Homo sapiens: one gene and its partner. The main gene of each other region encodes a partner of the protein of the gene in region 2 in a complex. Links are inferred from orthologs where the notes say so. Each region holds a gene or a part of one and is shown on either strand. Other genes may lie near its edges. The genes, in order: NEDD4 and GRB10.

Region 1 (15,828 bases), on a different chromosome or scaffold from region 2:
AGGCAGGGTTAAGGTCCAAGCTGCCATCCAGGCTGTGGCTGGGACAGCACTGAGCAGGAAGCAGAAGGCCTTAGTAGACTGGTGGATGTGATATTGCAGGGAAGAAACAGACCAAGGACTGATAAACTCCAGCCTGGCTGCCGGGCATGTGAATGCCAGTGCACGCCTGAGTGATGAAACCCTGGCTATTCTTCATGTACAGGGCAGACATGGCTGCTGGATGCCATGTGCATGTGCAGAACATCAGCAAATGGACACAGTGATCCTGAATTGTATGCCGTATGCAGCGGATCACCTCTAGCCAGCACAGCACTTCAACTGACAAGCCCAGATACCACCCACAGTCACCAGCATGCAGAGACTTTGCTTTTAACATGGGAGAGACGGTTCTCCATGTTTTGTCTTTAAGCCCCTTCCCTGAACATCACCACCTGGAGCCTACATTCTGTGCTGTATTGGCTCCCTGTAAGGCAAACGTTCACACTCAATCTTCCAAAAAATAAAAAGAGATGCTGAGTTTTATATTTTTATTGATTGATGGGAGAGGGTAAAACTCACCACAGGAAGTGTAGGTTGTTCCTCAAAAGTATAGGCTTGTAAGCTGCCTCTTCTGCTGGAATGATTCTTGTGAAAAAACAAGACAACAGAAGAATACCTTGATATTTGTGATTTGCCTTTGAGTGACAGCTAAGGTAGTGAGGGTAAATATGACAGGGCAGAAGAGAGAAGGCTGGCTAGGATGCAAATGTTGAGAGTGCAGGCTGAGTCATGTGGTCGCTCTCAGCCCCCTACGTGGACACCTTCACACATCCAGCTCCCATGCCCCCCGTGCTGGACTGCCTCCTGGACACCTTCTCTTGAATGTTTCACAGAAACCATTCTCAAATACACTCCCTCTCCACTTTAGTTACTAGTTTTATTGTTGTTTTAACTTCAAGTTTCATCTTTTGTCACTTTGATTACAATGGCAGCAATATCCTAAGAGGTTTCCCCGTTGCAAGTCTTACTTCCTTAAGTCCATTCTCCATGCTGCACGCTGCAGGCTCAGAGCATCCTGCAATGCACAGCCAGTCCTGTCCTTCTGGAGCTGAAGTCAATGACAACACAGAAAACAATGCTTCCTGAACACCACGACCTGCCTCTTCCTGACTTCTTCAGCCACTTCCCACTTCGCAATCTACCCCCTGGACATTCCAGACTACTTGTTTCCTGGAAATCTCATGTTCTTTCTTTCCTTATGTTTTTCTATACATGCTATTATCACTATCTGAAATATCTTAGTTTTGTTATTTAATGACATCAAAATTTACAATGCACATACAAATTGAATCAGAATATCCACTGTAGTACTGTTTATAATAGTACTGTAAACAATCTAAAGTCTTTCAATAGGAGACTGGTGAAATGCCTTAAGGGTTACTTGTACAATGGAATATGCCAGAGTTTAATGACTGTTTTAGTTGGTTTTTAAAGGAGTACATCTATCTGTACTGAAATGGTTCAATGTCTAAGAGACAGCAAGTGAAAAAAGCAAGTTACCAAAAAGTATGTTTAAGATGATCTCAGGTTAAAAAATCATCTACAAATATATGTGTATGCATGCATGTTTATGAATATACAGAAAAAGTTTCTATATATGTATGCATGTGATTTATCACCAGCAAATCAGTATCATTTATTCTTTAGGTCTTTGACCACTAATAGTAACTGAGGGAGCATATATTAGTGGTAAGATAGAAGGTTTAATTTTTATTTATTATTTATTTATTTTTTTGAGACAGAGTCTTGCTCTGATGCCCAGGCTGGAGTATGGTGGTGCGATCTTGTCTCACTGCAACCTCCACCTCCCAGGTTCAAGCAATTCTCTTGCCTCAGCCTACCGAGTAGCTGGGATTACAGACACACGCCACTGCACTCGGCTAATTTTTGTATTAGAGACGGGGTTTCGCCATGTTGGCCAGGCTGGTCTCGAACTCCTAACCTCATGTGATCTGCCTGCCTTGACCTCTCAAAGTGCTGGGATTACAGGTGTGAGCCAAGATGCCCAGTCTTAAATTTTATTTTATATACCTAAATACAATCTCAATTTGTAACCATAACCATACAGTGCTTTAAAAATATTTTTTAAAATAGGTAACACTCATACATGTTATAAAATTCAAAAGGAGCCTGGGAAACAATACTATACCAAGTCTTTACAAAAATTTTTTAAAAAAATTAGCAGGGGTACAATGGCATGTGCCTGTAGTACCAGCTACTCCAGAGGCTGAGGTGGGAGAATCCCTTGAGCCCAGAAATTTGAGGTTGCAGTGGGCTATGATCATGCTACTGCACTCCAGCCTGGGCGACAGAGTGAGACCCTATCTCAAAAAAACAAAAGGTACAAACAATATATATCCTGCTCATTCTTTGCCTCTCTTCAGAGGCAAGCAAAGTTATTAGTTTCCTGTTTAGTCCTCGAGTAAATTATACACATATTTATGCTCTGCATTTAAATAATTTACATAAATTCTGGTGTAACAAACACACTGTTCTGTACCTTGCTGTTTTTCATTTACCAGCATCTCTTAGGGATTGTTCCATCCAACATATACACTCGAGCCCACCTTGTTCTCTTCAATGGCTGCATAGTATTACACTATATGGTTGCCATGTATTACTTTAAGTAAAAAAAATACCAGGAAGAAGGGGAATGGGATCGTATGTGATTTATCATCAGCAAATCAATATGGTTTATTCTTTTTTTTTTCTTGAGACGGAGTTTCACTCTGTCACCCAAGCTGAAGTGCAATGGTGCAATCTCGGCTCACTGCAACCTCTGCCTCTTGGGTTCAAGCCATTCTTCCAATCTCAGCCTCCCAAGTAGCTGGGATTACAGGTGTGCACCACCACACCGAGCTAATTTTTGTATTTTTAGTAGTGACAAGGTTTCGCCATGTTGCCCAGGCTGGTCTTGAACTCCTGACTTCAACCCATCTATAATCCCAGCCTCCCAAAGTGCTGGGATTACAGGCGTGAGCCACCACGCCTGGCCTAATGTAGTTTAGGTCTTTGACTGACCTGTCCCACTCCCCTGTGAAAAAATGAAATGAATGGAAGACAGAACAGACAAATGGAAGAAAGGAAGGGCAGGAGGCAGGCAGGCGGATTTACTGGCAGATATTCATATTCACGTACAACTATCTACTGTGAAGCTTCTTGAAGAAGATGCTAGAGCAGAGGTTAGCACACATTTCCTGTTAAGATCCAGACAGTAAATACTGGCTGTGGGCCATATGGTTGCTGCTGTAACTACTTTATTCAGATGATGTCGTGTGAAAGCAGAGATGGGCAATACCAAAACAAATGATGTGGCTGTATTCCAATGGTAATTATTCATAACAGGCAGCTGCTGATTTGGCCCACCGGTTGTAGTTTGCTTTCCTCTGCACTAGAATGTAAGTCCCATGAAGGCAGGAGATATTGTTAATTTTATTGACTGATGTATCCTCAGTAACTAGCATATAGTACTCTGCATATATGTGATCAGCTCTCATTAAATATTTACTAACTAAATGAAAGGCAGGGAAACCTCAACTGGAAATGACAAATAGCATCCTCAGAGAATAATCTTTGTCTTCTACTCAATCTCCCTTGATGATACATATTAGACAGCTAGCTATGAAGTTCTCATCGTGGAAGCATATGCTGGGATACTTTATTCTGAACCCTATGGACAACAGTTTTTACAGTGGTGGCTGAAGTGAAAATGTCATCTATCTCCTTGTTTAGTCAAAGTATATCAGTTCTTATTCATATATACCTGTTGGTGACATCTGTGATATAATGTTAAAACTTCAGGCCAGAAGCAGTGGCTCATGCCTGTAATCCCAGCACTTTGGGAGTCTGAGGCAGGTGGATCACTTGAGGCCAGGAGTTCAAGACTAGCCTGGCCAACAGGGTGAAACTCCTCCATCTCTACTAAAAATACAAAAATTAGCTGGGCGTGGTGGTGTGCGCCTGTAATCTCAGCTATTCAGGAGGCTGAGGCATGAGAATCGCCTGAAGCTGGAGACGGAGTTTGCAGTAAGCCGAGATAGCACCACTGCACTCCAGTCTAGGTGACAGAGTGAGATGTCTCAAAACAAACAAACAAACAAGCAAACAAAAAACCAACTTCAGCATAACTGGGAGAGAGAAAAGCAGTCCCTAACATCCAAGAGCTGGCCTGGCACTCATAGGTAAGATCAAGACAAAATCAAGACCACTCTGTAATCGTGGCTGAATATAGACAAAACATGAACATTGTCCAAGCCACAAAATACCAAACATTTCCCCATCCTGGCAAATGTGAGTGACTGTTCTACTTTGCTAATCATAGCTTTAGCCTCACTACAGATAAGATTTGAGATACAAAATCATAGAATTATCCCTGCTTCCCAACAGCATCTCATGTAGAGCAAAGTCCTGCTTCCTAAAACCCTCTTCAAAATCACCTAACAGGAGCCCAAATCCCTGAAGTCTTTTCTAACATTCTGCTACCAAAACACCAATGGTGCGTGTTCTCCCTTGCTGAAATGAATAATAAACCCAACTTGTTCAATGACAAATGTGTCCCTAGTGATTTTTGACTGGAGGGCACTGACATAATGGAAATTTGGATGCCATGACTCTGGTCCATACTACTAATGAGGATATTTGAAAAATGACCATGTTGTAAAGTCCCAAGGTCCCTAATGTATTATTACATATTATTGCATTTAAGACAAAATTTTACATAAAAGTTAGTTGTTGAATAGTATAATATGCATAATATAAACTACTGAAGCCGTAACAAAATCTAAGAGCATCTTACTGAGCTCGATGCTGGCTGGCTCACGGCTGAATTTCCAAAAATGGTGAGTCTGGCATTCAATTCTTCTGCAAGATGAGTTGGAACATCCAAGTTACTTGACGGTGGAGGTGATGGGAAGGCCTGGTTGCTATACATGGTGGCTTCATCTTCTCTTATAATTTCCCAGTTCTAAAATGAACAGAATAAGCTTGAGCCACACATACTTTATTGCTATAGCATGTGTCTTTCAAGGAGAACTAGGAAACTACTTATACCTCGGAAGACTCTCGGTTGTCAACACTTTCTGTTTCCTCGGATATCTGCCGCCTGGTGGTAAATGCACGTTGTGCTTGCAGTTGAATGTTGCCATTCTCAGCATCTGTTAGGTTGTCCCTATATTGGAAGTATAAAAAGCCATCATCCATGTCTTAAGTAGTTAAAATGATTGTCAAAGATTCTGTGATCATTGGGAAAAAAATCTACATTACATCAATAAAAAAATTTATTGTCTTTGACCAAAGGCTATTTCAACATGCAAAGATTCAATCATGGGTAGGCAGACTGGTATATTTAGAGTACCTTACGGAGTTTAAGGTTTTGTGAAAAGGTATAACATGTCTGATTTGATATTTTAGTTTGTCACTATGTCTAGGATAATGTCCAACACATATAGGTACTCAAAAATATTTGTTGAATGAATAAATATCAGAGCGCTTCATAGATTATTTCATTGTATTATTTTGCCATGTTATTATAAGAGTAATAGAGTTACACATACATACATCTTTGTGAATCAGATAGTACATTTTCTAGAATTGGTCTTAAGCCAGGAGTAGAGTACTCCATGCATGAATGTGAAGGGCAGAATGAAAGATGGTGTAAGAACTTTATAATGAAAAGCTTAATGGTTTAGGAATTACATATCTATTAGTAATGGTATCTGTTTTTCGTAATATACAGTCATGGGCCTGTCCTGAAAAAGGTAATAGTAAAGATTTGTCTGAGCTTAGGAGAGGTACAATAAATCAGATTGGACGGTTAATGAGTATTAAAAAAAACAGAAAGAATGAATAAGACCTAGTATTTAATAGCTTAACAGGTGACTACAGTCAATAATAATTTAATTGTACATTTAAAAACAACCAGAAGACTATAATTGGATTGTTTGTAACAAAAAGGATAAAGGCTTGTGAGGATGGATACCCCATTTTACATGATGTGATTATTATGCCTTGCATGCCTGTATCAAAACCTCTCATGTACCCCACAAACATATATACCTACTAGGGACCCACAGAAATTAAAATTAAAAAAAATCAGATTGAACACCCTTACCCCAGTCATTTATATTATTCTAATTATTTGCATTTAATATAACCAGTCTATCAGATCAAGAATTTTGTTCAAATATTTAATAATAAAATTACTGTTTATTTAATGCGACATGAGCTCAGGCTAGTCAGAAGACCAGTTCTTACTGTACCGTAGCTAAAGAAAACATAATTTTGATACATGGCTCTAAGGGAATGCTTCAGTTTTTTTCCCCCTAAATATATGATTTTGGCTACCTGAAAATGACATCAGCCACAGTGAAAGAACTGTGATTTTGCTCATGTAAGGCTTGCCATAATACTGAGGTATGCAACAGCGCAATTCTACAGAATTTTATAGTGTCTTCAGCTTTGCAGTCTGTACGTCACTCTATGAAGACTGAAGCTTCTGTGCCATGAAGTACTTGAATTGCTGATTTGTTTTGGAAGGATTTGAGAACAGAAAATATCTGTAAAAGTGCTTGGCATATATCAGGCACAAAATATCATAGCCAAAAATTAGGAGGCTAATGAACACATTAAAAAATTACGAGTATGTTTCAAACAGAAGACTAAAGGAAGACTTTATAAGACTATATGGAAGGAAAAATGGAAGGGGATTTGAGAATAAATATGAATAATGGGAGATTTTATAAATGTATATACAGTCTAATAATAAAAAAAATCACTGAGGAGACAGAAGTTAGAATATGTTGAAAGTCATTCCGTCCTTGATCTGTGCGTGCTGGAAGTTATGTGGACATTGACCAGACTGTCAAATGCGCGTTTAACGTAATACCCTTATTATTGAGTCCTTTATATTTTACAAATAATTTATATTTTAAAAATAGAGTACTATAGAAATTAACATTTTATTACATTTTAATAACAAACTACAAGAATTCTCCAAGACTTCTAATTCAGCCTAAAAATAAAAATCTACCATTTGTGGCTACATAAAATTAAAAACCTATTAAAATTAAGACGCAATTAAAAGGGTAGTATCTAGAGTCAAGTAATTTTGAATATTATCAAGTCATTTAAAAAACGAAACAGCAGAGTTAGGATTTTTAAAGTCCTGGGCAATAAAAATCCTAGTATTCTTATAGTTTATGGATCACTATACTGTTATGAATCCATCTGAGACATGACTTCAAAATGAAAATTCGTAGTTAAAGTGTTTCCAGATTAAAATTGTGAAAGCCATCAGCACATACTGAGGGGTTGGTCTTTTCCACTGTGTTCTTCTAGATTCATGGTTTACATAATAGGTCCTTCCAAGGATATCCTGCCTCTCTTCCCACCCTGGAGGTAGAGGAGAAGGTTCTTGTTGTTGCTGCAAATGGCAAGCAGCATCTGGTTGGTCCAAAACAACCCAGCCAGGCTGAAAAACAGGATGGCAGCAATTAAGTTTACGCATGATTTTTTTAACTTTCTAAATTATATGCTAAAGGAAATTTAAAAAGAGATTTATTATATCAAGTTTTAGAAATTATGCATAGACAGAATAAACAATCCTCAACTTTTAAGACCATAATGTAAATACTTTATGATAATGAAGACTCTTTTTGCAAAAATGATAACCATTTAAATTTTGTTTAAAATTGTCTAAAAATTTTTCAAAAAAAACTTTAAAGGCACAAGCCTGTAAAGTTTCCACCAGGTTCTTCCTGGGTGACAGAACCAGATCCCATCTCAAAACAACAATAAAACAGAACTTTAAAACAAATCTATTTAAAATTTTCATAACAAAAAAGTAATAAAAGTATGTGAGGTGATTTAATGAGATTAATTAGCCTGATTTAATCATTTTGCATTGTAAGTATATATCAAAACATCACATTGTCCTCCATAAATATATACAATTATTGTCAATCAAAAATAAAATTTTAAAAAATCTAATAGAAAAAAAGGACAAAAAATCGTTTAAATAAACAACCACGGAAAGTTGGAAAGTACTGAGAAATTGAGAAGTATAGTTTAAACTACTAGTGTAATCTTAGGCTGTTCTCTAAATTATCAACTGAATGAAGGGCAAGGATTATTTCTTATTGGTCATTGTCTTTCCTACAGAGAAAGCACCTTGCTTACGGTAGAAATCAATAACTATCTGACACATGGAAAAAATCATTTGATAAAGGTCAAATATACAAAGGGGCAAGATGGGGAAGGCAAATGATTTAGAAATAACTGCTACAGTGAACTCTCTAGTGATGGAAAAGTCATTCTCATTCCCTTGTCTGATTTCTCTCTTTCTCCTCTGGACCAAGGCAAGGCATTTTATCAAGTCATAAAACAGCCAAAGAAAGATTTTTAAAAAATGCACTGAGAAGTTTGGTTTCTCAGAGATTAACAAGGGGCAAAATTAACATAAAGCCTTAGGGCAGTTAAAGTAAGGAATTGATAGAAAAGAGTAGCAAGAGTTAATGCTTTTATATGAGAAACCTCACAAAAGAAAAGGCAGTAGGTCAAAGATTCTATTAAATACTGATTGGTTAGGAAAGCATTAGAAACTGAAATAAACTGGTGAAGAAAACTTTAAAATGCTCCCAAAAGGACACAAAAGAAGACCTAAATAAGGGAAAGACATAGTCTGTTCTTGGCTGGGAAGACTCAGTCTCACAAAGGTGTCAATTCTTCCCAAGTTAATCTATAAATTTGCCAAGATTCCAACAAAACTGTATTATGATTAAAAAAAAAAATAGGCCAGGTGCGGTGGCTCAGGCCTATAATTCCAGCACTTTGGGAGGCCGAGGCGGGCAGATCACTTGAAGTAGGGAGTTTGAGACCAGCCTGACCAACATGGAGAAACCCCATCTCTACTAAAAATACAAAATTAGCCAGGTGTGGTGGCGCATGCCTGTAAATCCCAGTTATTCGGGAGGCTGAGGCAGGAGAATCACTTGAACCCGAGAGGCGGAGGTGATGGTGAGCCGAAATCACGCCATTGCACTCCAGCCTGGACAACAAGAGTGAAACTCTGTCTCATAAGAAAAAAAAAAAAAAAAGATACGAGGCAACTCTCAAGTTCAACAGAAACATAAACAAGCAGGAATAAGCAGCACAATTTTTAAAAAGAAAAGCAAGAAGTGAAGATCAACCCTACCAGATAAAAACACATTATAAATGACAACAATTAAAGCTGTGTGGTTCTGGTGCATGCATCGACAGGCAGCTCAATAGATTTGCCCAGAAAGAAACTCAACTTTATAGGAATTCCGGCCAGGCACAGTGGTTCATGCCTGCAATCTCAGCACTTTGGGAAGCTGAGGTGAGGGGGTCACTTGAGGTCAGGAGTTTGAGACCAGCCTGGCCAACATGGTGAAACCCCATCTCTACTAAAAATACAAAAATTAGCCGGGCATGGTGGCGGGCGCCTGTAATCCCAGCTACTCGAGAGGCTGGGGCAGGAGAATTGCTTGAGCCCAGGAGGCAGAGGTTGCAGTGAGCTGAGATCGCACCACTGCATACCAGCCTGGGCGATAGAGCAAGACTCTGTCTCAAAAAAAAAAAAAAAAAAAAACTTTATAGGAATTTAGAATATGATAAAGACATTTGAAATCTGTGGCAAAATACGCAGATTACTTAGAAAATGGGCACCCATTTGGAAAAAACTTCACTTGAATTCCTACCTCATGCCTTATATCAGGATAAGTTACAGACTGAATAATATCTAAATGTTTAAAAGTGAAACCAAAAAGTAGTAGTAACAAACTTTTGAAAATTTTAGAAATATATTTTAAAAGTGGGACACTGTTAAGTATGACACCAAACCTTGAAGGCATGAAAGAGAAGATCCATAAATTTGATAACAAAACACCCACATTTGTATATGGCCAAAACTACTAAATAACATTAAAAAAAAAAAGACCAAATGACAAAGTGGCAAACATTTTTGGTGCTTTGATAACTGACACAGAATAATTTCCTTAGATACACAGAGCTTCTGTTCTAGGCCTGGAGATCAGCAGTAAATGACTGCTGTGTGACAGGCAGTGGACGGCTTCCAAGATGGAAGAGAATTCTTCCACGTTGGAAGGCTAGACCTGAAAACGAGGCCTCAGGGAAAAGAGTTGGGAAGGAAAGGAATGTTTTTTGGTAGCAGGGAGAAATGGATAGGGGTTTCTGCAGCAAGGCTGATCTAGTTTGGCTAGCTCTGTATAGAAGGTGACGAGTAGTGGAGTAGGAAGATGACAGAATAAATTATTTTGGGAGAAAAGGTCTGGAGGGGAATTTCTCTCTTTCTTCTCTCTCTCAACAGGGTCTCATTCTGACACCCAGGTTGGAGTGCAGTGGTGCCATCACAGCTCACTGCAGCCTTGACCTCTTGAGCTCAAGCAATCTTCCACCTCAGGCTTTAGGTGTGTACTACCATCCCAAGCTAATTTTTAATTTTTTTGTAGAGATGGGGTCTCGTTATGTTGCCCAGGCTGGTCTCAAACTCCTGGGCTCAAGCAATCCTCCTGCCTTGGTCTCCCAAAGTGCTGGGATTACCAGCGTGAGCCACTGTGCCCAACCTTTCTTCTTTTTTTTTTTAAATTTTTACCTCTTTTATAAGAATTGTTCTCTCTATTTTTTCTTTTTATTGCCCAAATTTCATTCTCTTCTTTCCTTATATCCTCTTACTTTGTCTGCCCATCCATGTTGATCTTCCTTCTTTCTTTCTTTTCCTTTCTCTTAAATTATGATAATACAGGATCTAGCATACCTAAAATTTAGTCTTGCATATATTGAATCAGACTGTATGTTTCTGGTTTCAATCCCAAAACACGTTAAGTTTTTATATTTTACTCTTTTGAGAAAATATAAATTTAACATTTTTTGGTTGAATATAACCATTGATTACTTTTCCTTTAAGATTAATACAATTTATTAATAAAATAGTTCTCACTACTGCTGTAAAGGATTATAAAAATAGTGCTAGAAAAATGGTAGCAAAAGAATATTTCTTTTAAAGCTTCTTAGAGATTTCTCTCTTAAATGTCTGCTTAATGTATTTATATTATCTGAGTAAATTCAGGAAGAGAAAGAACAAAAATTAATTTAATTAAGGGCTTAAAAAAGACCTGTCTCAAATTTGTGGAAGTAGAGTTGTACAATCAAACACGGCTTAGAAAGACTGGATACAATGCCTCTATACAGTCAATTTTTTGGATAGAAGGCCTTCCTATTAAATATGTATCAGCTGCTATTCTTTATAAAATAACTTTCTAAGTATCAATGAACCTTATTTAATTTCTAACCGCAAAGCCAATATGTAATTGCTCACAATTTAATCAAGTCAAAGAGGGTCAGAAAGAAAGCATTCAGAGGTACAACCAACATTTTATGTTAATTTTGTAAAATACATACAACTAACCCTAAAGTTGCAAATGGTACAAAAATCAAATGTTACATAATTATCTATTATAGCCATACTTTACTACAGAATACAAACTACCTAAGAGTGAGCTTCATTTCAAAATTACAATTGTTTTCCTTAAATAGTAGAATTTTATATATACAGTCACAAACTAGCTGTCAAAGGACTAGGCAAGACTCCTCTAGTCATTAGCTACACAGAAGGTAAATAAGCACAGATTCATGTGTTTGAATTCCTAGGGCCTTTCATAAATAAACTCCTACAAGCTTACATCTCCTGAAATTATAAGGTGCATTCTGAGGGAATTCAAACACTGAGACATGAGACCGCAAAATGAAGTGAAGCAGTTCTCTCCACAGAAACTCAACTGTGAATAGGGTCCTATGATGCGTGCATGTGGGCAAAACTTGGAGCAGGTTACTAAATAATGAAATGCTGTTAAATTTTTTCAAGTTACTAAATAAATAATTTTCTTTCTTTACAGCAGATATCCTTCATTTCAAACAGAATTCCATTATTCGAGATACTCTGGTACACCAAAAAGCCAGGTAGAGAAACTTCTACTGAATGAATACTTGAAAACTTTAAAAACAATTATACGAAAATCAGAGAAAAATACCTAACAAAAAGTTAATCAAATAAGTGAAGAGAGTTCTTTGATCACCAAACCAGGGGCTATCTATACTCTGTGATTTGAAGAAAAAAGGTTCTTTCCTGGCTGGGTGCCGTGGCTCACGCCTGTAGTCCCAGCACTTTGGGAAGCCGAGGCGGATGGACGGCTTGAGGCCAGGAGTTCAAGACCAGCCTGGCCAACATAGTAAAACTCTGTCTCTACTAAAAATACAAAAATTAGCCAGGCATGGTAGCACATGCCTGTAATCTCAGCTACTTGGGAGGCTGAGGCATGAGAATTACTTGAACCCAGGAGGCAGAGGCTGCAGCGAGCTGAGATTGCACCACTGCACTCCAGCATGGGCCACAGAGCAAGACTCTGACTCCAAAAAAAAAAAAAAAAGGTCTTTCCTTCTATTATTATAGATTCTCCTGCAAAGCAAAATCTCATTAGTGCATTTAAAATTTTCCCAGAAAGCTCTGCTGCAAATTCACTACCTGTTCTAGAGCTTTTCTTTCTCAAGGTACATGGGCATGTGAGGTAGAGCCTAGCCCCTGGGGAAGGCCCTCAGCTTCACTGTTCTTATGGAGACCTAAGCAGGCCCTCAGTCAGAGGAGAAAGTGTTAAGCAAGGCAACAAATAAGAACCCTCCAGAGCAATTTGGTGCCATACGCTGTGTGCTTTGCTTTCAGTAACTGCTGTTAATATGGTTTGGCTGTGTCCCCACTCAAATCTCATCTTGAATTGTAGCTTCTATAATCCCCTCGTGTCGTGGTAGGCACTCAGTGAGAGGTAACTGAATCATGAGAGTGAGTTTTTCCGGTGCTGTTCTCATGATAGTGAATAAGTCTCATGAGATCTGATAGTTTTATAAAGGGCAGTTCCCTGGCACACACTCTCTTGCCTGCCACCATATAAGCTGTGCCTTTGCTCCTCTTTCACCTTCCACCATGATTGTGAGACCTCCCCAGCCATGTGGAACTGAGTCCATTAAACCTGTTTTTAAAGCTTTATAAATTACCCAGTCTCTGATATTTCTTCACAGCAGTATGAAAATGGACTAACACAGCTACTGAATAAATGATACTTCTTTTTGATGATAATGTGCTTTCAAAGGGAACCTCAACGAGCAGGTGTTTTTTTGACCCCTTTCCAAATCATAAATTTTTTTGCTGGAAGAAACCCTCGAGGTCATCTGATGCCATCCTGTCACTCTGCAAACAAGATCCTGAGGTTCGGAAAAGTTCAATGACTCACACAGGTCTGGCTAGACAGAGTGTGCAACTAGGATTCCAGTCTCCAAACCCTATCCAATTCTATTCCAAATACATACTTTCTGCCTCCTACTTGCTTACTCCAGATGCATGTAACTCTACACAAATCTTGACTTGGACTTTCCTCTCATCCTGTCATCCATGAAAATTGTTAAATTCTACTTGCCCCACATACAGAAGGCTCTTTATTAGATCACTTAAATTTTCCTTGCTCCCTAATTCCCCTCCTTTCCTATGAGCCCTCCCACCATAATAAGAATATTAACAGGACTTAAATTTCATAAAAGAGTTCCTAATCAGTGGAGTCTCCTCAAAATGTCCATATATTTAACTTCAAAATACTAAATTGTGTTCTTACTTTAATGGAGAATATACAGTTTTAGAAAACTTTGAAAAACTAGATTTATATTCTATTCTCTACTCCTTAACCTTTAAGAAGGCCATCAATAATGGCCATTCCTTCTACGGAAATATCCTTAGAGGGAAAACTATTAATGCTTGGGTGAAATAAACATCCAAGTAAATAATCTTCATTGCACATGTTAACTTCATTCAATAGTTATTGTTCTTCAGAGTACAGTAAAATAAGAAATTAAAATTTTTTTAGTTTAACCAAATATTTATAAAATCTCACCTCTAATTCCTCAGCCTGTTCTGCATTATCATCTTCTGAGCCACTGGTTTTAGGTAAATAAGTCATTTTTAGTCTCAGATAACCTTTAACTCTTGATTTGTGACTGTAGAAAAGAAAATAAATATTCATAAAACTTTAACACCGGGAGAAAAGTATTCAATTAATAAGAGTTTAATGAACACCCACTAGGTACCAGGGGGTCTACAAAGGGAGGTTCAAAGACAAGTTCCAGGGCAGAAGATATCTAGGGAAAGGAATAGAAGGTAGAGAAAAGGCAAACATATATAAATAAATAAATAAATAAATAAATAAATAATTGTTATGACACAAAGAAGATGCTAAGGAAGTTTAAGTGAACGATCAGAGACAATGTCAAAGAGAAGCTGGCCTTTGAGTTGGGGTTAGAAGACTGGGGAGGATTCTTACCTGTGGCAGTAGAGGAAAAGGCATATGAGTAAAGAAGAGGGCAAGATCCAGGAAACAGATGGGAAATTTGGGGTGCAATTAAGGAAATTGCAGTAGTTGAGTTTGGCTAGATTATAGGACATGTAAAGGGGACTACAGGAGATTGGGATGGTCCAGAGGTCATGCAAAATCAGACAACTTCAGACTTTATTTTGCATATTTTGGTAAATCACTGAGAATTTGGGGGATAGAGAAAGGTATCCTCAGAGATGTGCTTTAGGGATGCTAATCTGGCCATATTTTTTTGGATGACAGAAGAGTAGAGGGCAAGGCCTGATCAGTGTCTGAAACCTGCTACATCTCTTTGGCAGCTGTTTGAATCTGTCACACATTAATTTACCTAATCTATTTTTATATTGTATCACCTTTTTGAATAATCAGTTGTCTAAGCTAAAGGCTGCTGCCTGCTGTAGTAATATTTTAAATCTTTTGAAAACCTGTCTTTCATAAGCTGCTGCTGCTTTTTTTTTCTTCTTCTTCTTCTTCTTTTTTTTTTTTTTTTTGTTTTGAGACAGCATCTCCCTCTGTCGCCCAGGATGAAGCACAGTGGCTCAATTACGGTTCACTGCAGCCTTGACCTCCCAGGCTCAGGTGATCTTCACACCTTAGCCTCCTAAATAACTGGGACTACAGGCACACACTGCCATGCCCGGTTAATTTTTGTATTTTTTTGTAGAGACAGGGTTTTGCCATGTTGCCCAGGCTGGTCTGGAATTCCTGGGCTCAAGCAATCCACCCACCTAAGCCTCCCAAAGTGCTACAATTACAATGCTTTCATAAGGTTCTAATTTAAGGCTTAATTCTATTGTCCTCATCAATTCTAGTATCCTATGATTTACTTAAGAAATCCTTACTTGTCTCAGCTCTCTATATAGATTTTTTGGGGATGATTTTTTACAGATATCAGATATGTAGCAATTACCCTTTGTCTTTCTAGACAAGAGTCCTAATCCTTTTATTCTGTCTTCAAGAGATTACCTACCCCCACTCCCAAGCCTCCCCTAATCTTTTTAGCTCTTCTCTGTATGGTTCTCATGGATTTGGCAAATTTAGTGTATCCTTTCATGAGTAGTCAGTGAAATCCTGATGCTTATTCCCAAGGCCGCTAATGTGGCTTGTGTCTCCATACTGAAGGAGATGTGAACATTCTGACTTGTGGCTATAAAAGATGGATACAGAAAATGTGCTCAGACAATGTTTTGTTGAAAAGTTTCTCTACAATTGTATGTTTCATGTCTTTTCAATTGGAAAAGAAGCCTCAAGGTTTTGACTTAATGGGGCTCACACAAATTTAGGAATGTAGTACATTTTCTATCTGAATAAAGTTCTTTCTACACTTGCAATAATATTCATTGCA
Region 2 (15,828 bases):
ATTCAGTTACAATTGGAAAGCAAGCAGAAGTGGGTGGTTGCTCACTGGTTGTGAGGTGAGTGTGTCTTATCTGTGGATGAGACAGAGGAGCCACTCAAGTGGAAGGACCCTCAGCCTGGAATCTGGAGTTGGGCTCCACCAATTCAGCGCATCCCCCAGACGCAAAGACCAGTTCTCACATGACTCCCTCCTCATTCCGATCATCAGTAACCACCTTTGTAATTTAGGCTATCATGGCCGCTCACCTAGGCCGGAATTCTCCAATGGAACTTCCCTTGATGATGGACCTGTTCTAGATCAGCACGCTCCAACACAGTAGCCACCAGCCACGTGTGGCTACTGATAACTAGAAATGTGGGCTTGTGCAACCAAGGACTACACTTCTCATTTTACTTTATAATTAAAATTAAAGTTTAAATAGTCCCGTGTGACTAGTATTATATTGGACAGAACACACCTATGTAGGCTGCATCGTCTCTTCCTGCCTGTGGTCAAATCACCCTCACGTTCATCCACACACACCTTCCAGACGAATCTCCCATGGGACTCAGGCTCACCTCTGTGCTCCCAATAGAGATCTCTGCCACAGCTCTCACAGGATCTGTGTGCACATCCGTAAGTATACAGCTACAGCAGAGGGGATCTGTGTCCACATGTGAGTATACAGCTACAGCAGAGTGGATCTGTGTATTCAGGTGTGAGTATACAGCTATAGCAGAGTGGATCCTTGTCCACATGTGAGTACACAGCTACAGCAGAGTGGATCCTTGTCCATGTGTAAGTACACAGCTACAGCAGAGTGGATCCTTGTCCACGTGTGAGTACACAGCTACAGCAGAGTGGATCTGTGTATTCAGGTGTGAGTATACAGCTACAGCAGAGGGGATCTGTATCCACATGTGAATATACAGCTACAGCAGAGTGGATCTGTGTCCACATGTGAGTATATAGCTATAGCAGAGTGGATCTGTGTATCCAGGTGTGAATATACAGCTACAGCAGAGTAGATCCTTGTCCACATGTGAGTATACAGCTACAGCAGAGTGGATCTCTGTATTCAGGTGTGAGTATACAGCTACAGCAGGGTGGATCCTTGTCCACGTGTGAGTACACAGCTACGGCAGAGTGGATCTGCACCCACGTGTGAGTACACAGCTACAGCAGAGTGGATCTGCACCCACGTGTGAGTACACAGCTACGGCAGAGTGGATCTGCGTCCACGTGTGAGTACACAGCCACGGCAGAGTGGATCTGCGCCCACGTGTGAGTACACAGCTACGGCAGAGTGGATCTGTGTCCACGTGTGAGTATACAGCTATGGCAGAGTGGATCCGCTTGCCCACGTGTGAGTACACAGCCACGGCAGAGTGGATCTGCGTCCACGTGTGAGTATACAGCTACGGCAGAGTGGATCCATTTGCCCACATGTGAATATACAGCTATGGCAGAGTGGATCCGTTTGCCCACGTGTGAGTATACAGCTACAGCAGAGTGGATCTGTGTACCCAGGTGTGAGTATACAGTTACGGCATAATGGATCCGTGTGCCCAGGTGTGAGTATACAGAGCAGAGTGGATCTGTGTGCCTACGTATGAATATACAGTGATGACCAATGAGAAAATGTGGTTCTATTATAAATTTACCAGCTGTCATTTCTGGAGTTTCATCTGGAAGTGGTGTAAGGGCTGGACGTGAAGGTGGGGTGACCACAGGAAGTGAGAGGAGTTAGTTGGTTGGCCATCTTAATGGCTTACGTTGTCAAGTTCTTGAAACTCTCATACTCAGCCTTACTTTTGTTTTGTCCTGGTAGCATCCAACACAGCCCTTGTGGACTTCCCTGCCTAAACTTCCTGTCTATTGGCTAGTCCAAGAAGAGCTCATCTCCTTTAAAGAACCAGCACTGATCTTCTATGTAGATACCCCAAGATAAAAGAAAATAATAGGAGAAAAATGGTAGCAAGAGCATTCTGTAGAAAAACATTGCTGTGAGTAGATTAAAATTGCAACCAAACATAATGTCACGAACTTAAAAGAACAAAACAAGAAACAAGAAAGCAATCACATCACCGAAGGTCAAAGCGGAGCTGTAAAAGCTCAGGCACTAGATAAAGAAAGCTGGCAGAGCTCTGAAGAGAAACGTCAGAGAAAAGTGAAGCCAGCCTAGCAGGGAAGTGTGCAAGGAAACAGCATAGAGAACAGACCCTACTGAAACACCATCACGGATATGGAGGAGGACAGGACTAAGACAGCAACTCAGATTCAAACACCAAGAGAGCTGCAGGGCCTCTCCGCAAATGCTAGGAGAGGTTGACAAAAGGGAGCAAACACACAATTTCCATCTTTTTGCAAAGATGTAGCAACATGGACGGAAATGGAGACACCATTTGAAGTGAAATATGCCAAGCACAGAAAGACAAGCTTTGCATGTTCTCACTCCTCTGTGGGAGCTAAAAAAGTGGATCTCATGAAGATAGAGAGTAGATTGGTGGCTACCAGAGGCTGGGAAATGGGATGGGGCAGGGAAGTGGAAACATTTATAAGGACTGTACACTTAAAATGTAAACATGGTAAATTATGTATGTATATTTTACCTCAATAAAAAACAAATTAAAAAGAAAAAACAAAAAGAAAAATGTATTTAGATGCAATTCACAAAACATTCCCAGAAATCAAATGAGACTTTGATGTAGTTACAGATCAAAAGTGCCTACCATGTCTTAAAAAACAAAAAAATGACACCAATTGCCACCAACCCCAGTGTCTTTCTCCTTGTTCCCAGAGGACCCCAAGTTCCCCGAGGGACACCACTCATTCTGAAGTGCCCTTTGCTAGCTGTGCTGAGGCCAGCAGCCATGGACATCCTGTCACGTGGCCCTTGCTTGATCTTTGCAGGCCTCCCAAGCTGCCCATCTTGTGGATGATGACTGGGGATGGCAGATGAAGCCCAATTTTGTCAAAGGCGGATTTTTCATTTTTGTTTCCTGCCCTTCTTAATGTTGTATAACTTCCAAAATGAAAAGGGGTAACGCTGCCTTTACCATTCTATAATCGGAAGATGTTGAATATTTTACCTTTTTACACTTAAGAAGCTAAGGCTTTTATCATTAAACAAAATCCCTTTTTATAATTTTACTCATCACTCAAATGCTGTGAAAACCGATGAAGAACGTGCTGGAGGCAGTGAGATGCATTCTCGCGTTGTGCCACAGGGGTGCTCTTGGGAGGCCATTGGCTGGCCCTGCGTGGCTGCACCTACAAGCTTCTTTGGTGTTACGATCAACAACTGCAGTTGGCCCGGTGGGTCCCCACCTGCCCTGGGCTCTCCTTGTATGTTGAAGCAGAGGGTGGGCTTCCAGAAACTGAGAATTCAGATTCTGAAAACAAATGACGGGAGAGTCCACACAGCACAGGGGCCCTCCTGCTGGTAGACCAGGCTAGCTTGTGACAACATGCACATGCCCTCCAGCTGACCAGGGTGTGACAGGGAAGAGGCATGAGATGGCAAGTCTGGCCCAAGTGTCAGGTCAGTAGCTCAGCCAGGATCATCCCAGGCGAGGGCTGGAGAAACAACAATAATGGGCATCTATTCTTACTCTGTCAGTTGTTTGCTGGCTTAGAAAACCTAGGTTCTAGACATTTTAATTGTCTTACTGCAGTGGAAAAAATGCCAGTTGGGCTCAAGGGTGAATGTGAGTTTCTTGAGGTCTTTCTGAAGCCTGTGTGGGTATCTGACGGTTTCTGAAACCTTCTGAGGTCTGTTATTTTTATGGGGGAGGAGAGGCCAGCTGAGAATGTCTTGCCACCAACTTGGAGCACTAAGCAGCCAAGAGCCTGGTGTCTCACGAGGGCTGTGCAAGCTTGTGTGTGACATGTCCCAAACAGCTATGGATTCCTTGTGATAGTGTCTAGCTAGTGGTAAGAAGTGTGTTTTTAGTATTCTAAGTCATTTCAAAATGTTTTTAGTGGATGACAGGCCAGGGTTTTTTTTTTGTTTTGTTTTGATAGGAGTCTTGCTTTGTCACCCAGGCTGGAGTGCAATGGCACAATCGCGGCTCACTGCAACCTCCACCTCCCAAGTTCAAGTGATTCTCCTGCCTCAGCCTCCTGAGTAGCTGGGATTACAGGTGCGCACCACCATGCCTGGCTAACTTTTATATTTAGTAGAGACGGGGTTTCACCACATTGGTCAGGCTGGCTTCGAACTCCTGACCTCATGATTGGCCAGTGTTTTAAAATTAGAAACAGATATCACCAGCAATAGAAAATGAAGAACACTGTATTAATGTTTATTTCTAATTACAAGAAACAGAACATCAGTCCCTTATTTGTACAAAAATACCTGAAAGTTTACAATTAGGTTCACGAGCCAAAGAGCTATGTACAGAATGAAGCAAAGCACATGGAATAAAGGTTTTGTCTCTTCATTAATACCTTCTGCATTCCCTGAAAACGTTTATACACGCCAGGCCAATTTACAGTCACTGCAGTTTGCACTGTGACATCACAAATCTACCGCCAGCTTGCCCGCCCCCAGAAAGGCGCAGAGATCGGTCATACTGTCAGGTATTAAGTGCAGAAAAGAGAAGACAAAACATCTAGGCTGAGGCACATGTTTCTTCAAGGTTTAGCAAACAAAAGAACATTCTGGAACTCTAACACCTAGTGTAACAGAGCTTACCTATTAAACTCTAATAACCAAAGCATTTGGCGTTTTCCTTCTCAACTTCGTCCTGGTTGCTACATGGAGTTTCATTTAGAAAAGAAAATCACAGGCAGAGATACAAAGTCAACAGGCTCCAAAACAACCCTGAGCTGTCCCCTTTACATTCATGTCAATTAAATACAAAAATAAAAGTCAAATGTCCTTCCGTCCCCGGTTTGCGGGACTTGTTCTCAGGTGGAATTCCCAGCCGCCCAGCGCGAGGCCAGCGAGCTGGGGCCTTAGGAAGTCTGCCGCCACGTGGAGGCGGTTTACATTCTCCAACAATTCACTTCGGCAGGGAAAATACAAAAGACTACGTCAAACCAGCTACATACAAAACTGTGAATCAGAGTCAAGCTTTTGTTCTCCTTTTAAATAAACGCATATTTATAAATATGAAATACTGCAAATACAAGCTGTCTATTGGAGAGAGGCGTGTGAGAGAGAGATTATACACTGATGGGACTGGTCTACGTACACAGAAAAAAGAAATCCTAGAGTTGTTTTTCCTTGAAAAGGGTTTACCTCGAGCCAGTGAAGAGGAAGGAATCGTGGTGTAACTGCAATGTCCGTCCCTACAGTGAAGCCTGCCACCAGGTGTGAACGTGAGAATTATCTTACTGTCAATAGTTTGAAAGACTGACTGGCTGCGAAAGGAAGAAAATGCAATTGAGCACTGATGGTTAAAAACATGTTTTGCTAGAAAATTCTTCATTTGTATACCTTTCATGGAAAACAACTAGAGTGTGGTCTGTAGACTGACATACAGTGTTACTATACGGTAGACTGACTTCCAGCTGACTGGCCTTACTGAAGCTTGTGACACTGCTCTAGGCTACGGGGGTTGACTGAGGAGCAGAGAAATGCTGTTCCTTAGGGAACACTTCAGTGGGGCGGATTTGGGGCAATATCATGGCCAGCACACATTAATAGAAGCCAGGCAGGTGTTGTCTTGAAAAAGGAAATCATTCTGCTCACCACAGTAGTTTGTCGCCTGTCAAAGGAGTCCTTTCTGCTTTACAGGGATCAAAGGTAAGGAAATGGCCACTCTCACACCTGATCACTAAGCTAAGGGGACGTGGCAAAGGGGGCCACCCGAGGGGCGGAGGGGACCAAGTGACAACTCAAGCCACCATCTGACTCATCTCCCGGAGCGGGGACAAAGTGTTGTGTTGACAAAACTCTTCCATGTCCACAACCACTGTGAGGTACTTCTGACCCTAAGCCAGCAGAGGAGGAGCCTCTAGCTGCTCTGTGTTCACTGGCTTATGGGGGTTTTCAGCAGGACGGAGGGCTGCAAGCAAAGATCTTTAAATATCAGCCTGTGCCTGTGGCCCCTGCAGCGTTTCCTTGTCTTTATCACTATGGAAACCCATGAGACACAGCACGAAGACAACCAGGTGCCATTTTCTCTTTAGATCCTTTAATCCCCCGAGGGACATCAGCCGTGAAACGACTCACACCACTGCAGCAGCAGGGGTAAGGCAGTGATCGTTCTAGAACAGGCTGAAGGCTGTGGAAACGCAAGGCTGAAGTACCCAGGTGGATTATGCAGCATCCACCGCTGGCCGATGACGGGTGCCAGGTGTGTCTCAAGGAGGCTGGCCCACGTCAATCTAGAGGCGAGGCCATTCAGCCTGCTGTTTGTGGAACAGTGAATTTTCCAAAGGAATAAAGTCTCCTGCACTGTGCAGAACAAGACACACTAATAACAAGAGGATCTGACATCTGAGCATAGAGAAATGATTAACAGACTGTGGTTGCTTGACTGAGTCCACAAAATATGCCAAATGCCTACCACAGTGACACCTTTTATTTTAACAAGAAAGCTTTTCAAGTATACTGGGAAGGGCTGGGTTTGTCATTTGGGAGCTGAATCCACACCGTGGTAGTCGGCAGAGGGTGTGGAGGACCCTCTGGGAACATTTGGGGACCCATATTCAGTTTGAAATCTGCCCATTCAAAACTCTTTCTGTATTATATGAGTTGAAACGCCACATCCCCCTCCTACAATAGGCTGAATACAATATTGAAAACAAAGAAGGAGTGCAAAAAAGTGATCAATACAAAAAAAGTAAACATATCAGTTTTAATTGTCAAGATTATTCCAGGGCAAGAGTTCATTTCCAATCACTTCTCTCCGGTTCTTGTTCCTAAGCGGCCCAAGCCAAGATGATCATTCCAGTTTATTTTCAACTTTCCGCTGGATCTTCCATGCCCTCCCCAATTTGGCCGATGCAGAGGGAGGCGACCCTGCTGGGTTCACAGCAGCAAATCGTCGTTTAAGTCCAACAAACTAGTCAATCTTGGTCGGCTGGCACCGAACAAACCCATCTCGCTCTGGGTCCCCAGGTGCAGAATCGATGTGTGTTCTTCACCAACGCACAGACCGCTTCTTCACTCCAGTGTTCACTTCCTCCAGTCTTCAGCCGAGAGGACATCTGCGGTCATAAGGCCACTCGGATGCAGTGGTGCTTGAGTTTGCAAGGCAGGACTCCTTTGTTCAGCTGGTAAAAGTCAACCAGCTGGATCAGGTCAGAGAATTTGGTGTTCCCGTCATCTAGGCTGAAGAACGTCTGCCCGTCGTCCTCGCACTGGAGAGACACAAGAACACTTGCCAGGTTAGAGGCTGCCACCTCAGGGAACAGAACGGGGCCCACGGCCAGCAGCAGCTACATCTGCCCATGATTTGATTCCAGAGGGACACACAGGGCAAGGTAGGCTAGAAAACACCAGGGGCGGGAAAGACGGGAGCAGAGGATGTGTGCTGGGGGCTGCCATGTCCCTGAGCGAGGGACAGACTTTGGGTGGGCTGCGGAGGCTGCTGAGGACAGCTAGCTCCCCTGCTCCCTAAGGTGGTCAAGGGGAAGGGCTCGAAGTTGCCCCCAGTTCACCCAGCTCATGAGAATTACATTTACCAGTTAACTTGTAAGTACCCACTGCACACAGCATGCCCCGAGAAGACTGCACAAACCTGGGTCCTCACTATACGACCTCAGCCAACTCCTGAGGCCCCAGGGGTTTACTCTGCTCCATGATGAAGCAACTGTTGGGTGGCTATGAGGGATTAATAAGCTCACGCAGGTAAATTCCGTTCCTAGGTCCCTGAATATGGGGCAGTTATTTTTATTAAAGCAGGGGAATGCCACAGTATCTCCCAGAGAGAATCATATTCCTAACACCTATTTTAACTCAGTGAGTTTTCAGTTGGATGACTGTAGTACAGTGCAAAACACTGCTGAAAGGAGGTCGTGTTGTTCACAGGGAATAGGTCAGCCTTAAGGCTTGGCTAATTAATGAGCTTGGAACCACTTCGTAACTCTAAAACCATTGCTAGAGCTAACAGCACATCCCACAGCCAGTTTTCACACACAGAGGCTGCACACCTAATGCCCTAAGTCCCAAGTTGCTGTTCTTTTGTTACTTGTAGGATTTGGGCATTACACACTCTGCCTACCACGAAAGCCCCCTTTCTTTCTTTTTTTTTTTTAATTTACTCATCCAGCCTAAAATGTCAATCACTTTTCATTTTATATTTTGAGCTAAAAGAATTATAACTGTGTGAATAATATAATGCAGTAGAAGAACAAAAAGGATTGTCTATGCAGCACTTTCCCTAGGACAGTAATTCCTGTATTTGCATATAAGGTTGGCTGGAAGCTGGGAAGGCTGGGCTCAACCCCAGATTCTGTTCCTCACCCCAGTGCGGTGCAGGAAAAGCCACTGACAGCCATGAGCCTCATTTTCCTCACGAGTAAGGTGGGGATGTCAGCACACAGCAGGAAGCAAGCAGCCACAGAAAAGACAGTGCGTGGCACACTGCCTTCCCCTGGCTCACAAAAGCTAAGCAAGACACCCTCCTCATCCTGTATGGTCCATGGCTGCCAGTCACTACACGATTCTTGAGATCATAACAAAGTCCTGGGGGTCAGATAAGCCTGAAGAACTCCAGGTTCAACTGTGTAAAACAGGTGAGTTTAGTTAATTTAAGCCTTCTCAGAGCTTTTTCTTTGCTGACATGCAGATTGAATCTCTGAGAGGAAACTGTCCAGCCAGCCTCTTTTGGTAGAGTTTGGGTTCCACAGGATGCATTTCACAAACATTATCATTACCTGCAGAATTTATCAATTCAGCATGTAAACAGCTGCTATTAATTTTGTGTATTGTATTCTCAACTAAACTGAATTCTTGTAGGCGCTGATCTAGCACTCTAATCATGAACTAGAATTGAACTGTGGCATACTGAAGTGAGAGGTAAACATCAGGCGAATCAAACATAAAGTGCTTTGTCAAAAAAAGTAGTGTTGATTAATGTATTCTGTAATGAAGTTTTTGGAATTGTTCAAAGGGAGAATGGTCTTTAGATCCAAGGACCATGTGGAAGGAGAAACAAAATTACTCTTTGGGAGGCCACTTAACGCTTCTTGGATAGCCCTGGTGTACACCAGGACAAATTACAAGACTCCTCAGACTCCAGCAGCCAACAGGCAATCCTGCTGCACAACTCCTGCCTTCCAGACCCACGTGCTCACAGCTGCTGCGACCTCAGCTAATTCTCCTCCACCTCCCCTTCCTGTGACCTTGATCCTTCCCATCAGTACCCTTTCAGCTGTGGGCCCTCAGCTAATTCTCCTCCACCTCCCCTTCCTGCGACCTTGATCCTCCCCATCAGTACCCTTTCTGCTGCAACCAAGAGCTCACAGGCTCAAGGGGGGCCTCAACACCCTATCACCACTTTCAGGATTATTTCCAGGGAAATGTTTTTCTAATTTCAAAAGACAAACCTGTAAAGAAATTCTTGAAAGTTTCTTAACTGCAGCCTTGAAACTGTCTGATACTTACCGGTCTTGTCGGTTTATAACTTGAAAATTGCATTAAGAATGAAACCAGAAAACAAACCACAAGGACTGGTCTGAGAACATCAATACTTACAGGTAAGATCTGGAAATTTTTAATTTTCTGGTGATGACACAGTGTGAGTACAAATGCCTTTGGATTACTCTGGCTGTCACGGAGGAGAAAAAGCCTGGGGAAGGGAAAATAGTTGATTGCTAAAATATTTTAAAATCTGGAACTAATCACACACACACACTCTCTTACACACACACACACACACACACACACACACACACAGGCTTGGAGCCACAATGCTTCAGTGCAGTGCTTTGGCATTTAAGTGGCCTCTAGGGGCAACAGCACACCAGGCAAGCACCAAGACGGTAATTCTGAATTGTCATTCTCCATTGGAAAAAAGCTGGGCTCCTTGGGGATATGCCTGACTACAGGGTTAGGGCAGGGAAACTATAGGATGAAAAGGATTATTTTGTGCCTGCATATCAAGAAGTGCTCAAAGAATAATGAGGACATGTCAAAAAGACACAGGAGGCAGGATGACTAAATCTGGGCATCAAAATGAATTTTAAAAGTAATGAATCATAACCCATGAAATCGGAATCCGTGTCTGTAGTATTATTTAAAAATAAATAAGCAAATAAATTAATACGGGAGAAGATGAAAATCTTTCTTGGAGGAGAATGTCAGCCAATAAATAAAGGCAAGATGTATTCAAAAACTACCCTTTGGCAATTACTGTAGTAACTAACAATTAACGAAGGAGGGGGGATCTTCAACAAATGCTGAAACCAGCAGATGAAAGGTGGATGAGAAAAAAGAGTATTTTCATGGCATCAAAGTATTGTACTGTTAATACTTATTTACTACAAAGGGGAAAATAATAGCTTTACAGTGGAGAAATCCGGCCGACAGCATCTTCTTCATCAAGTGTCTAAATTACCACCACTAGCAATGAGACAAATTGACCTTGAGGGCTTCCGGAGACGATGTACTGAAGATGACACAACATCACTTTTCGGGGGTGCTCCCGCCAAAAATGCATAGCCTGAATCTCACCATGAGTGAGGAGCCTAGGCTGAGCCCAGGCACACTCTACAAGAATTGGCTTCTACTCGAAACGCAGGTCAAGATTATGAATACATGCTGGGAGAGAAGATTTAGGATGAAGATGTTCTTTTGCTATAAAGGAGGCAATTAGGAAGAAGGGTATAGATTAGACAATGAACTGCGTCGTCAATGTTAACTTCCTGGTTTTTATAAGGTACTGTGGTTATAGAAGTTCTTGTTCTTAGAAATTTTACACTGTAATAATTCAGACTAAAGGGACATCATGCCACAACTTACTCCTAAACGGTTCAGAAGAAAAAACAGTAACTAAGAACAAAGGCAAATGTGCCATAATCTTAATAAGGGTATCTGGGCGAAGTGTGTATAGTTCATCCTATTACTATTACAACCTTTCTACAACCTTAAAATTTTTTTTTAATCCTAAATTAGAATAGCACAAAAAAGGCATAAAATCATTGCTCTTACATGAGAAAATCTGGAGTTAGCTGAAAAGATAGTTATACATCAGAAAGCGAAGAAAGATCCAATGAAAGCTACAAAGAAGAAATGGCCTGAAAAGGAACTCACTTTAAATGTATCCAAAACCAAACTACAATCATCAGCAAAATCACCAGGTCTAGATTGTAATGTGAAGATGGAAAGCAGTTAAATAAGACTGGAAAATCCCATGCTGAAAAGGTAAAAGAAATATATTTTACTACAGGACTTCTCAGAGCCTTAAATATGTGAATATTCATGGTAACTGCCTAGCAGTTTTCCAATCTTACCTATGTAGAAACCTCCCCCACCCTTTCTAAAATAGCACTTTGCAGGCCTTGTGTGCTTCAGGATATACTTTGGGAAACACCGATCAGAATGGGATTCCATGGTTTGGCTTGGTCAGGCCAGATGGGACGGCGTGAGGAAGCTCAGACCCCACTGGGGAACACGCGGCACCGCCAGAGAGAAGACAAGGAGATCCAGTTCTTCTCCCAAGCGCTGGTGCATGCTGGGCAGCTGTGCCCACCTCAAAGACTTGTCAGAGTCATGTCATTCCAAATAAAACATCGTTACTCTGACACCCAGAAGTTTGCCGAGCTTCAGCTCTAACTAGAGGAAAATGTGGGGCGTCCCTTTCTCTGCCGTTAACTATCTGCTGTCTCCTTCTGCAGATGGGAAGCTACAGACGAGTGAATGGCAGCATGGCCCAGGCCTGTTTACCCGAGAGGGACGTGTACCCCTGAGAGGGGCAGGCTCACCCTGGGAAGTCCCAAGGCTGCTGGAAGGCTTGAGCTTTATAGGGAATGCCTGAAGGTTGTCTATCTGAGATGACTGCTATGCGGGGAGAATGGCATGGCTTAGGCATCAGCAGGAATCCTGGATAGGTCACTTATTAGCTTCATCATCTTGGGCAACTTCTCTTCTCAGCCTCAATTTCTTCATCTGCAGAAGGGGAACAACACCTCTTTTTTTTTGAGATGGAGTTTTGCTCTTGTCACCCAGGCTGGAGTGCAATGGTGCAATCTCAGATCACTGCAACCTCCGCCTCCTAGGTTCAAGCGATTCTCCCCTCTAAGCCTCCCAAGTAGCTGGGACTACAGGTGCCCGCCACCACACCCAGCTAATTCTTACATTTTTAGTAGAGATGGGGTTTCATGGTATTAGCCAGGCTGGTCTCAAATTCCTGACCTCAGGTGACCCGCCCACCTCGGCCTCCCAAAGTGCTGGGATTACAGGCATGAGCTACTGCACCCAGCCAGAATAACTCTTCTCTTACAGGACCATTGAGAAGACCATGGCTGATGTATATACAGCTTTGTGCATGATCACACGCAATACAAGGTAGCTTGAAATAACAATCACTGCAATCAGCCAACTGCCACAATCCAGTGATTTCTAAGGGGATTGCAGTTATAGGAAAGATGCCCAGGGAGAAGCTAAGCATGTTAAGTGACTACTAACCAGGCTCAGAAGTTGTAAACACGGCCCAGGATGGACAGTGGCAAGAACCAGGTAAGTTCTTAAGAATCGATGCTAGGGATGGTGCACTCACCAGTCCATCATAAATGAACGAAGAGCCCCTTGTGACAGGACCCGACAGTGATCAGAGTACAATCTAGACCACGTTTACAAGCAAGACACCGTGCAAAGTGTTTCATGCATGTATTAACTCATTCATCTTCATGGTGATACTGTTATCTTCATTTCACAATGATAAGGGAAGTGACACACAGAGAAGCTAAGCAACTTCCCCAAGGTCACACAGCCAGTCATGGAGGAGTTCCTGGTTCAGCAGGAAAAGCAGACGAAAAGTGAAAGTATCCCTCTTACAAGGGTGCTATGTGAGTCCTGGGGATAACACCTCTCTTTCTGCGGTTGGGAGAAGGGAAAGCTTCAAAGAATTCAAATTTTGCCGAAGAGGTTTCCTTCCAACATGTGGAGGGGCATGAAGTGCAGACAGAGGGACTGCACAGGCAGATGACACAGGGATCGATGCCTGGCACAGCAGGAAGGCCAGTGGGGCTGGACCATGAGTGTGGGCATGGCAGGGGGGGCATCCACATGCCCTGGGGGGATAAGCATGGTGTTGGGGGTGGGGTGGGATTGTTTGGCAGAGAGGACTACAGACCTAGATTTCCCCTTAAAAAGATCCTTCTCCTGCAGTTCTGGGACGGGCATGGGTGGCAAGACAGGAAGGAAGCAGGCGGCAAATTCAGTGCAGGGCTGGTAAAGCACGAGTATGTGCGCGCACACGCTCAGCTGCATGGGTGGGGACGGGGATGGGAGGGGAGCTGCCTGGATCCTGGGATTTCAGGAATACTTGACGGGCTTATTTAAGGCTCTGATGTCTCTTTCTAACTGCATACACCGTTTGAGAATAAAGCTATGGAAAATGCTGTTGTTATACTGTCTGTCCAGAATCTTGTGCTGTTTTTCGAGGTGGTTTTCTTTTCTTTGTTGTTTAACTCTTTAAACTGGCTTGCCTTCATCATCTCTGCAGGGATCAGTAAAGATTAGAAATGGATTATTTACCTTGTTATACAAATACACCTCCTCCCTACACCCAAGAATTGAGAGGAAGATGAGCTGTTCCTGTGTTAACGCCTGAATCAATCCCATTATCTGCATTTCTGTGTGTGGTTAGCGCTCCAGCAGCCTAAGGCGGGAGCTGGAAATGACAGCCTTGGAGACGAGGAAGGCTCCAGGGAGGACGGAGAGGAACACCTGCTGAAGAATAAGACGGGCGGCACCAGCCGGGCTGATTTGGGGAACGGAAGGTAACAGAGGTGATGCTTCTATCGCTTTACAGGTCTGGAAAGACGGATGCCTCACCAACTGGGTTTCTGATCCGAGAAAAATTGAAAGACAAACATGGCTGGGGGAAGCAAAACGCTGACACACAATTCAGGTGGCCCAGCAGTGCTGACCTGCAATCCACCCCACCCCAAGGCAGCCCTTTCAATCCAAAGTGGACAGAGTGGGCCTTATCCCAGAATCACTCAGGAAGCTTCTTCAAACATATGACTGCCACACCCGCCCCCAAGGTTCAGAAACATCTTCGCCTCGGGATGATGGGCGTCCTCACTGCCCTGGCCTTGGGGAGGACACTTAGTGGCCACAGCACCAAATAAAGCCTCCTGTGGAAGTGCCAATTCTCCAGCAGAGTGACGCTACCCCGAAGTGAGCCTGCGCTGCCTCCCACACACGGCAAGGGTAACAGAGGTCCCCCTAGAACATTCTGGGCCCACTGTTGATACGGTTCAGGGGTATAAGCAGGTATACACTGTATTAGAAGCCCCAGAACACACAGATACCCCTAACTCAAAAACGTCACAGAAAGAGAAATTTCTGTGTTAGGCTTTTCTCTCCTCAGGCATGCCAGAAACTTTAGAGGAGAAACATACTGTTTTACAGTTAGAGGAGGAGTTGCTTCTAATGCTTTGAGAGACTGCTCTGTGATAAAGCTGACATCTTGAGTAAGGAGTTTTGGAGCAATTGTAAAGCCACATGGGAAACAAAATAAAATCAGACCCATACTCTACCCAGCAGTGAGGATAAATAAACCCAAGTGCATCTGGGATCGAAACAAAACCAAACAAAGACCAAAAATGAACCAACTAAGGACAAAAGAAAGAAAGGGAGAATGCAGAGAGCAGGAAGGAAGGAAAGAGGAGCAGAGGGAAGGAAGGAGAGAGGGGGGAAAAGAATCCAAGTACAAGACAACATGAATGCACCCCTTTATGATTTAGGAGTGGGAAAAACAAAAGTGTCTGCAACTTAACTGATTAGAAAAATGGACAAAAAATGTAAACAGGGTAGAACTGCCAAAAGACAAAGAAGTCCTTCCATACATGAAACGAGGGTCAGCCTCCTTCATGAGAGATGCGGCTGACAGCATGACTCTCAGATGAAGAAGTAAGCCTGCTGAGGGACTCTGGTGATACTTCACAATATTACATAGGCCCTGCCCTTCCACCCCACAGCCCCACTTCTCAGGACTCATGGCAAAGATACATGGCAAAATTATGAAACAATGCAGCACTGTGTCTCATAACATTTGCCTGGAAACATGGTGAACATCCCTCAGTAGGGGACATTTTAAAAAATGATGTTCCATGTACATAAAAGAAAACCCAAGAGTGGAAAAGAAATGTGGGCCATCGCGATGCGCTGCTGTGGAGCGATCCTTGGGATGCAGAGACTGCGGGAACTGCGCAGCGCAGTACTTGCAGCACGCTACATTTGCTTAACGAGAGGCAGAAAACAAAATCTTTTCACTCGTATTTGTACAATGAAATGACAGAAGGATAAACAAACACTAATAAAAGCTGTTTATCTGGTGTAGGGGTTGGGAGGCAGAGTTGAGAGGACAGGGCATGTGCCTTATTTCATAGATCTGACTTTGGAACCATGAAAATGTTTTATGCAATTTACAAAGCAGCATTCAACCAAAAAGAAAATAAATCAGATCCACTTGCAAACACTAAAGAGAAACTGAAACAAACAAACCTGATTTACCCAGCAGTTTGGTGACAGAACCATAGAGAAGAATTACTTTAAGTGACTTTGGGCAAGGTATTTTAAGGTAACCTGCCTGGATTAATCCTTAAGGATTAAAAGGACTGTAAAGAAATCGCAATTCAGGTGTCTTACTGAATAAATATCAGCATTAATATTTTCAAGATATTACAGGTATGTATTTTGTATTATGTAATATAAAGTAA

Evidence for each region.
Region 1: the proteins of GRB10 (region 2) and NEDD4 are in contact, whole or in part, in a crystal structure (PDB 3M7F), measured with the Mus musculus proteins. The link is inferred for Homo sapiens from one-to-one orthologs. Residues at the interface, in NP_001357532.1 of Mus musculus: Ile514, Arg516, Gln518, His519, Phe521, His522, Gly523, Arg524, Asp548, Gln579, Phe581, Gly587, Asn588, Thr589, Lys590, Phe591, Ser592, Ile595, Gln596, Asp599, Phe600, Leu603, Asn604, Ile617, Arg618, Val619, Ala620; in NP_035020.2 of Mus musculus: Glu71, Leu72, Val79, Arg104, Ser112, Ile114, Leu115, Thr116, Ser117, Val118, Gln119, Glu134, Ile135, Leu136, Phe137, Arg138, Leu242, Pro243, His244, Pro245, Pro246.

The regions. Positions count from the first base shown.
Region 1 is NC_000015.10:55,855,573-55,871,400, forward strand, and holds part of NEDD4 (E3 ubiquitin-protein ligase NEDD4), read right to left. Parts: intron 14,110-15,828; coding exon 14,007-14,109; intron 7,508-14,006; coding exon 7,341-7,507; intron 5,207-7,340; coding exon 5,089-5,206; intron 5,003-5,088; coding exon 4,835-5,002; intron 625-4,834; coding exon 559-624; intron 1-558. UniProt on the Homo sapiens protein: E3 ubiquitin-protein ligase which accepts ubiquitin from an E2 ubiquitin-conjugating enzyme in the form of a thioester and then directly transfers the ubiquitin to targeted substrates. Specifically ubiquitinates 'Lys-63' in target proteins.
Region 2 is NC_000007.14:50,585,803-50,601,630, forward strand, and holds the end of GRB10 (growth factor receptor-bound protein 10), read right to left. Parts: intron 9,729-15,828; coding exon 9,635-9,728; intron 7,297-9,634; coding exon 7,150-7,296; 3' UTR 4,266-7,149; downstream 1-4,265.